Linked DNA regions of Homo sapiens: region 1 is linked to region 2. Evidence: fine-mapped expression QTL. A gene starts in region 2. The other region holds a variant in brackets. All regions are shown on one strand. Distances are between the middles of the regions. Region 1 has its middle 49 kb from the start of EXTL2. Region 2 holds the start of DPH5 (diphthamide biosynthesis 5).

What was found. PIP is the estimated chance that this variant, and not a neighbour inherited with it, causes the effect. A credible set is the group of variants that fine-mapping cannot tell apart.
Region 1: its variant is the best candidate, but not a certain one, in a credible set for the expression of DPH5 in whole blood (TOPMed, PIP 0.52).

What each region holds. Positions count from the first base shown.
Region 1 is chr1:100,843,588-100,847,984 of GRCh38, forward strand. No RefSeq gene overlaps it. Among named protein-coding and RNA genes, the nearest start is that of EXTL2, 49 kb to the right of the region's middle. The variant G/A (reference allele first, on the strand shown) is at 2,520.
Region 2 is chr1:101,023,758-101,028,154 of GRCh38, forward strand. It overlaps DPH5 (diphthamide biosynthesis 5), which reads right to left and starts at 2,027. Exons shown (of 8, transcript NM_015958.3): 1 at 1,926-2,027; 2 at 1,552-1,709. The coding sequence starts at 1,686. It overlaps DPH5-DT (DPH5 divergent transcript), which reads left to right and starts at 2,089. Exons shown (of 5, transcript NR_109849.1): 1 at 2,089-2,304. RefSeq lists enhancers at 1,557-2,756, 1,849-1,958 and a silencer at 3,750-3,809.

The DNA of each region.
Region 1 (4,397 bases), 180 kb before region 2:
ATCCAATTTGCCAGTCTGTTTCTTTTAATTGGGGCATTTAGCCCATTTACATTTAAGGTTAATGTTGTTATGTGTGAATTTTATCTAGTCTTTATTATGCTAGCTGGTTATTTTGCCCATTGGTTGAAGCTGTTTCTTTGTAGCGTTGATGGTCTTTACAATTTGGTATGTTTTTGCCATGGCTGGTACTGGTTGTTCCTTTCCATATGTAGTGCTTCCTCCAGTAACTCTTGTAAGGCAGGCCTGGTGGTGACAAAATCTCTCAGCATTTGCTTATCTATAAAGGATTTTATTTCTCCTTCGCTTATGAAGCTTAATTTGGCTGGATATGAAATTCTGGGTTGAAAATTCTTTTCTTTAAGAATGTTGAATATCGGCCCCCACTCGCCTCTGGCTTGTAGGGTTTCTGCAGAGAGATCCGCTGTTAGTCTAATGGGCTTCCCTTTGTGGGTATTCCAACCTTTCTGTTTGGCTGCCCTTAACATTTTTTCCTTCATTTCAACCTTGGTGAATCTGATGATTATGTGTCTTCAGTTTGCTCTTCTCAAGGAGTATATTTGTGGTGTTCTCTGAATTTTCTGAATTTGAATGTTGGCCTATCTTGCTAAGTTGGGGAAGTTCTCCTGGATAATATCCTGAAGAATGTTTTCCAATTTGGTTCCATTCTCCCTGTCACTTTCAGGTACACCAATCAAATGTGGGCTTGATCTTTTCAGATAGTCCCATATTTTCTGGAGGCTTTGTTCATATCTTTTCATTCTTTCTTCTCTAATCTTGTCTTCATGCATTATTTCATTAAGTTGATCTTCAATCTCTGATATCCTTTCTTCCACTTGATCAATTCGGCTATTGATAGTTGTGTATGCTTCACAAAGTTCTCGTGCTGTGTTTTTCAGCTCCATCAGGTAACTTATGTTCTTCTCTGAACTTGTGACTCTAGTTAGCAATTCTTTTAACCTTTTTTCAAGCTTCTTAGCTTCCTTGCGTTGGGTTAGAACATGCTGCTTTAGCTCAGAGGAGTTTTTTATTACCCACCTTCTGAAGCCTATTTCTGTCAATTTGTTAAACTCATTCTCAATACAATTTTGTTCCCTTGCTGGCAAGGAGTTGTGATACCTTGGAGGAGAAGAGGAGTTTTGGTTTTTGGCATTTTAAGCCTTTTTGCACTGGTTTTTCCTCATCTTCGTGGATTTATCTACCTTTGGTCTTTGATGTTGGTGACTTTGGATGGGGTTTCTGTGTGGATGTCCTTTTTGTTCATGTTGATGCTATTCCTTTCTGTTAGTTGTCCTTCTAATAGTCAGGCCCTTCTGCTGCACGTTTGCTCCAGTTTGCTGGAGGTTCACTCCAGACCCTGTTTGCTTGGGTATCACCAGCAGAGGCTGCAGATCAGCAATGATTGCTGCCTGTTCCTTCTTCTGGAAGCTTCATTCCAGAGGGGCACCCGCCAGGTGACAGCCAGAGCTCTCCTGTATGAGGTATTGGTCAACTCCTGCTGGGAGGTGTCTCCCAGTCAGGAGGCATGCAAACCAGGGACCCACTTGAGGAGGCAGTCTGTCCCTTAGCAGAGCTTGAGTACTGTGCTGGCAGATCCGCTGCTCTCCTCAGAGTCAGCAAGCAGGAACATTTAAGTCTACTGAAGCTGCACCCACAGCCACCCCTTCCCCCCAGGTGCTCTGGCCCAGGGAGATGGGAGTTTTATCTATAAGCCCCTGACTGGGCCTGTTGCCTTTCTTTCAGAGATGCCCTGCCCAGAGAGGAAGAATCTAGAGAGGCAGTCTGGCTACAGCAGCTTTGCAGAGCTGTGGTGGGCATCACCCAGTCCAAACTTCCCTGTGGCTTTATTTACACTGCGAGGGGAAAACCGCCTACTCAAGCCTCAGTAATGGCTGACGCACCTCCCCCACCAACCTCCAACATCCCAGGTCGACTTCAGACTGCTGTGTTGGCAGCGAGAATTTCAAGCCAGTGGATCTTAGCTTGCTGGGCTCCCTGGGGGTGGGATCCGCTGAGCTAGACCACTTGGCTCCCTGGCTTTAGCCCTCTTTCCAGGGGAGTGAACAGTTCTGTCTTGGTGGCATTCCAGGTGCCACTGGGGTATGAGAAAAACTCCTGCAGCTAGCTCAGTGTGTGCCCAAATGGCCGCCCAGTTTTGTGCTTGAAACCCAGGGCCCTGGTGGCATAGGCACCCAAGAGAATTTCCTGGTCTGTGGGTTGCAAAGACCATGGGAAAAGCATAGTATCTGGGCTGGATAGCACCATCCCTTACAGCATGGTCCTTCATGGCTTCCCTTGGCTAGGGGAGGGAGTTTCCCAACCCCTTGCACTTCCTGGGTGAGGCACCCCACCCTGCTTTGGCTGGCCCTCCTTGTGCTGCACCCACTGTCTAACCAGTCCCAGTGAGATGAGCCAGGTACCTCAGTTGGAAATGCAGAAATCACCCACCTTCTGCGTTGATCACACTGTGAGCTGCAGACCAGAGCTTTTCCTATTCGGCCATCTTGCCAGCCACTTTCTCG[G/A]CCATTTTAAATTACATGGGCTATCTCCCTTGTTCCATGCCCTGTCCACTTGCTCTTTTTAAAAACATTCCTATTTTAATATAAAAATACTTCATGATGTAATATTTTATATGTGCAAAAGAAATTATATAACTTGTGCTAGCTTAAAAAGTAAAATAATAAAATAAACACCTGTTAATCCATTACCCAACCTCAGAAATTTACTATCACCAATATCGTTGAAGCTACCTGTTTGTTCCTCCCTGATCCTATTACCCTCTTTCTCCCAGGCGTTAACCACTATCTTGAGGCTTATGTTTACTTTTAGTCTTTCTATGGTTTCACCACAAAATCAGCAATGTATTTTTTTGGTTTTGAAATTCATAAAAACGGCATATCACACAACATGAAGGGCCATCAGCATATCCTCACTAGAATGTCAGCTACATAAGAGCAAAGGCTTTTGTCTATTTTGTTCACTGATATATCCCAAGTAACTATAAAAGGATCTGGCACATGGTAGGCACTCAATAAATATTTGTTAACTAAATTAATAAAAATATAAGCCTTCCAAATAGTTTTGTCCATTTCCTCATATCTGAAGCTTGACAGTTAGGCTTAGTTGCTTAACTGATTGAACACCATGATTGTCAGATACCATTTTTGGTGGTTTACTACCTTACCTAATACAGCTATTTCACTTGTGGCCTTAGTTAATGCTCTATGCATGAACTAAGCTCTTGTAAATATATCCATTTTGATAATGTAAGTTTTCTTTCTGCTTTTCTCCACTGTCTGATTATAATTAGCTGGAACAAGAAATGCTTCTTTAATATAATGAATTTTGCCTCAGTCATAGAAACTGTAAGATAGGACAAAAGAATAGATTTCCTTCTTTCTGCTGCTGAATCACAGATTCTCCTATGTAAGGAATACTTACTTAACCCAACATCTCAGGGATTCATAGATCTGACCAAACATTAGAGTTCTTTGTTGTCTTGTAATATGTATGCTGTTTTGCTGTATATCACTATCAGCATATTTTATACATTTTTAATGTAATTTACAATGCACAATTCCTTAAGTCAAATGTCCTGCACTGAGAACTCCTTCAGGGATTAGTTTTTTTTTTTTTTTCAAATGTGCATTTCTTAGGTTTACTATTTCCTTAGTATATATATTTAGAGTGTGTGTGTATATATATATATATATATATATATGTATATTTTTCTTCCTATTGCTGTTATGGAATCTTTGCTGGAGGTCCTGTGTGATAAAACCTCCAATATGTGGAATGTTATTAACATTTGCTAAAGACCTTTGGATGCAATGCAGAGTTTCTTTTCATGAGAGAATTGTGCAGTGGAAGAGAGAAGACTGCTTTGTGATTATAGCAGTTCTTTAACTGAATTAAGACAGGCAATCATTGGTGTTTCTACTGTGTTGCCAGGGACTTCTATTTATTATCAAGGCATTCTTTTATATTCTGCTTTGTAAAACTGGAAATTCCCTGAGAAATCACCAGGAAAGCTGAATGCCATATAAAGAAAAGAAAACCGAAACCAAGGAGGACAATATGTGGGAAAAAAAGAAGCTAAGACGTTAGAACTGTGCTATTTCCTAAAGATTAACATGTGTTTGAAAGATATAACAATGTTAGTTTTTGGACATAAACATACATATTGTTTGTACTAAGTGTTGCTTTTTCCTAGTCTGTAATCAATGAACAAGCATCTCTTGAATATGTAGTATTTACTTAGCACAGTTTGAGACACTGTGGGATATTCTAAAGAATAATCTGTAGAGCCCTTGCCTTTCAATAGCCTACAATAGAGTAGGAGGAATACAATGGCACATTTAAGCCATAAGACAAGGCAAGATGATACTTAATTACCATAA
Region 2 (4,397 bases):
TTTTGTGCCATATACCATAGTTAAGAACCTATGCTAAGAATTATGCTGAACACCTAAAGTAGATGTTTTTTACCCCATTTAAAAAAGACACTAAAGTTAAAGGACTTGTCCAAGGTCACATTAACATGTAACAAAGATAAAACTATAACCAAACTTTCCTCTATGCCATCCCCTGATATCTCATTCTATCAAACTGCTGTTTTGTTATTTGTCTGTCTTTTCTTGAAGGTGTTAAGTTCCTTTTACTTTTCCTTAATCACTGATTAGAGACGCACATTTCCATCATTTCGAGCTTAGATATTTTGGTTCTATCCTAAGAGTGAAAAAATGAGAAAAAAAAATGTTTTTTAAATCAAAGCTGGCCTTAGGCTGGGTGTGGTTGCTTGTGCCTATACAATCCCAGCACTTTAGGAGGCCGAGGTGGGCAGATCACTAGAGTCCAGGAACTTGTGACCAGCCTGGGCAATGTGGCAAAACCCTGTCTCTACAAAAAATACAAAAAATTAGCTGGGCATGATGGCACCCACCTGTAGTCTCAGCTACTCGAGAGGTTGAGGTGGGAGGATACTTGAGCCCAGGAGGCTGAGGCTGCAGTGAGCCATGATCATACCATTGCACCCCAGCCTGGGCAACAGAGCAAGACTTATTTTCTCTCTCTCTCCACATATATGTATATATCAAAGTTGGTCTTTACACACAACTTTTATTTAAATGCATGGCCAATTCAAGTAGCAGTTCTTAATTCCTTCTATAAGATTTTAAAGTAATCTGAGGCCTAAAAATTTTAAGTCTATTTTTTGTTTGGAAGACATGACAATAAATCTGCTCCCTCCTCCCATAACATATGTATTAATCCTTTGATTTACATTCTACTTAGAGTTTGACAATGAACCTGAAGTTGACCCTTCCCCCAAATTTACTGGGCCCTTATGAGGGCCAACTATAAATGTATAATATACTAACAAATACTTTGGTTACTTAGTGTATACTCATGTAAGTGTATACTCATACATTTTTATATATTAAGTCCAGGCTCACTCAATATATACAAGTGTATCAGTATAAGCCTTATTGGGAGATAGTCTATTTAAGATAAGATCTCTCTGGATAGGATACAAAAAGGCAATCGCCATTCCCTATGGACACACTTCAAAGGGGGAAGCTTTCAGCTTGGTTTTTGAATATATATAACCAACTCATTAAGGCTGTGTCAGCTCCTCATTAGCACTCAACTCAGAAAGGGTTTCTTGACTACCTCATGAAATAAGGGGTTTTGATAACTATCCCCCAGGAGTATAAAATAGCTTTCCTATTTACTGGAGAAAGCCACAAAATTAGACTTGTAAAATAGGACAAAGCACCCTTTCATTTTCCAAGTCACTTGGTTGGTGTAAAATTTCCATTCTTCTGCTCCTCAGATCATTAATGAACAAGGGATGCGTTTCAAAGGGTTTAAACAAGCAGACCTGAAAATTCTGTTCAGCTTAGTGTATGAAAATCAGATGTTAGATAGCTTTCTTCCCAGGAGGCTGGGGAACGCTCAGCACCTACCAAGGCTTCCTTCCCTACAGTTAGGACTGAGGTGTAGGCTTCCAGATACACTCGACTGCAGCGTCTAACAACTTCCAGGCCCTTGACTGTGATGTCCTTGGCATCTCCCAGGCCCAACCCGATGAGATAAAGCATTTCAAACTTGAGGAGAAGAGAGACTGCAAGACGAAGTGGACAGAAAAACCGTCAGTAACACCGAGGACATCTAAAATCTAGTGATGAACACGATGACAACCAAAGTAGCACAAGAGAAGAGGCAAGTCACAAGGAGGGGTTTGGGAACCTTATGTCACGCTTAAGAACTGGGATAAGAGGTTTTAAACAACCCTACCAGTTTTGCCTCTTGTTACACAAACCTAGGAGCAGCCAATTACCCGCTGAGAGAATCGTAGGTAGTTCTCTGGCCTTTACAAATTCTTAACTACCACCTTTCCGCAGAAGCAACTGCAAAAGCGCCGGCTCCGTGCAGAGAAAAGGCCCACGCCGCCGGCCTCACCTACGGTGCCGCAAAATGCTGGTGCCTTTACTGCACTTTACGACTAGCGGGAGGGGGCCGGGCTAGCGGGCTACTGGGCTGCGGAGACCAGAGCCCGGCTCCACTGAAGAAACCCGCCGGCTGCTGGGGCAGGGCGGCGAAAGGTCAGTCGGCCGAGAGGAGTCCGTGGAGCCACCGTTTCATAGCCTCAGGGAAAGGATCGGGCGTGCTCACGAGCCCTCTAACCCATGGCTTAAACACCCGCTTCCTAAGCCTGGGTAAGTGCAGTAGCTCTTCGCTCGAGAGGAGCCACGTGGAAGAGAGTCGGGAGGGGCCCTGCGCCCTACTCCTCCTCTCCAGAAACAGGGAGGGCTGGGAAGGATTTTCCTGATTTGTCCCCGGATTTGGCCGAGTGCACAGATTTTAATTCCAGTCTTCTCATCCTCCTGTAGTTCAACTAGGTGTCTTCCTGGTGAAGCGTGAGATTGGCAAACCCAGCAGTGAGTGTGCTTCTGATTTCCCAACAAGGCAATGACTCCTTGGGTTTGTCCCCAAGACCTTATGCCTGGAGTGCCCCAAGGATGTTTCAGTCACCCTCAGTGTCAGGAATCCCAGACCTTCCTGTACCTAAAGAAGTGACCTTTAATAGTGCTCAGGGATTTCAGACCTCTCAAGTGTTTCTGCCGGGGGAATTCTTATAAAGCTGTTGGTTACATGTAATTAGAAATAGGGAAGATTTGTTTTGACTGAAAATGCTCTTCCCAAGGTGACCTCATCCAAGTTAAAAAAGACAGCTGTCATTGCTTTTCTTAGCAGGCAGTGTTGGTTACTCAGAATTTTCCTGTTGCCTCCCCGACAATGCCCAACTCCGCTTCCTTGAACCTTGGCTTTTTTTCATTCCCAGGTTCCATCCACCTTTTTGCACTTCCTATCTATAAACTCTTCGTGGCTGTGTTTTATCCCCTCTCATTACGTTGATCTATTCCTCACACCACATACACACCCCAAAAAACTCAAAATGGATCGTAGATGTAAATGGAAAACCTAAACCTATACCAGAAGAAAACATAGGAGGAAATATTCGTGACCTTATTTAGGCAAATATTTCTTAAACCAAAAGCGTGATGAAAAAAATTGATAAATTGGACTTCAACAAAGTAAAAATTTATGCTCTTCAAAAGACTTGAAGCCACATACTGAAAATATTTACAAAGCATGTATCTGATGAAGGACTTGTATGGAGAATATATAAGGAGCACTCAGAAAGCAATAATAAAACAGTTCGTTGTTTAAAAATGGGCAAAAGATTTGAATAGACACCAAAGAAGATACACAAATAGCAAATAATTATTTTAAAAGATCTTAAACAAACAAAAAAAGATCCTAAACATCATTAGACATTAGGAAAATAAACATTTAAATCACAATGAGCTACCACAACCCACCTATTAGAATGGCTTAAGTAAAACAAACAAAACCTCACAAAAACTGGCTGTTCACTCAGAATTCCTAGTATCGCTAATATTTTGTAGATTCAAATTTCAGCCTCCTATCCAGACTTCCTCCCTCTTGGCTTCATGTTAACGTTCTGCTGGAAATCTTCACCTAGATAACCCGGAAGCATATTCAACACATCCAAGGTTGAATCCATCACCTTCCCTTTCCATTTTGCTTTTCTTTCCATATTATCTACTTGGATGGGTCGGGGGTGGGGGTGGGTGAGGAGAGTATTGTCATCAACAGATTAACCCCAGCCAGACACTTGGGAGTCACCCCCACATCGTCTGTCATGTCTGCCTGTATATCTCAATAGAAACCATACCGTCTATCACCATCTTGATTCTCAGGTCCTCATTTTGTCACTCTTGTAGCTGATAATAATGTCTCCTTCACTCAAGGGGGTCAGAGAGTTATAGTTAACAATCTGAAAATATTACACCCCTTCTAGATCCTTCTGAGGCCAAGAGAAAGTCCAGGTTTGTTAACATACCCCACAAGATCATTCGTGGTGTGGCCACTGCCTACCTTTTTAGCATCATCTCTCTCCACTCCATACCATGAGCTTTCTCGCTTTCTCTCCAGCAATACTGAATTGCTTGTAGTTCTCTGCCCACAACATGCTGCTTTGTTCCTCTACGCTGCTGCCTCATCATAGAATATTGTCTCCCATTCTCTCCTGCCTAGATCACTAATACCCATTCTTTAAGACCAAGTTCAGGAAGCCTTCCCAGAGACCCTCACCCCCCTAAGCTAATTTAGGTTTCTCCTCTTCATTACAGTATTACTCTACATATACTTACTAACCAATTTATGAGATTTTATATTTGTTCATTTGTATTTCTTCTTTACCAAACTATTGATTTAGTTAATT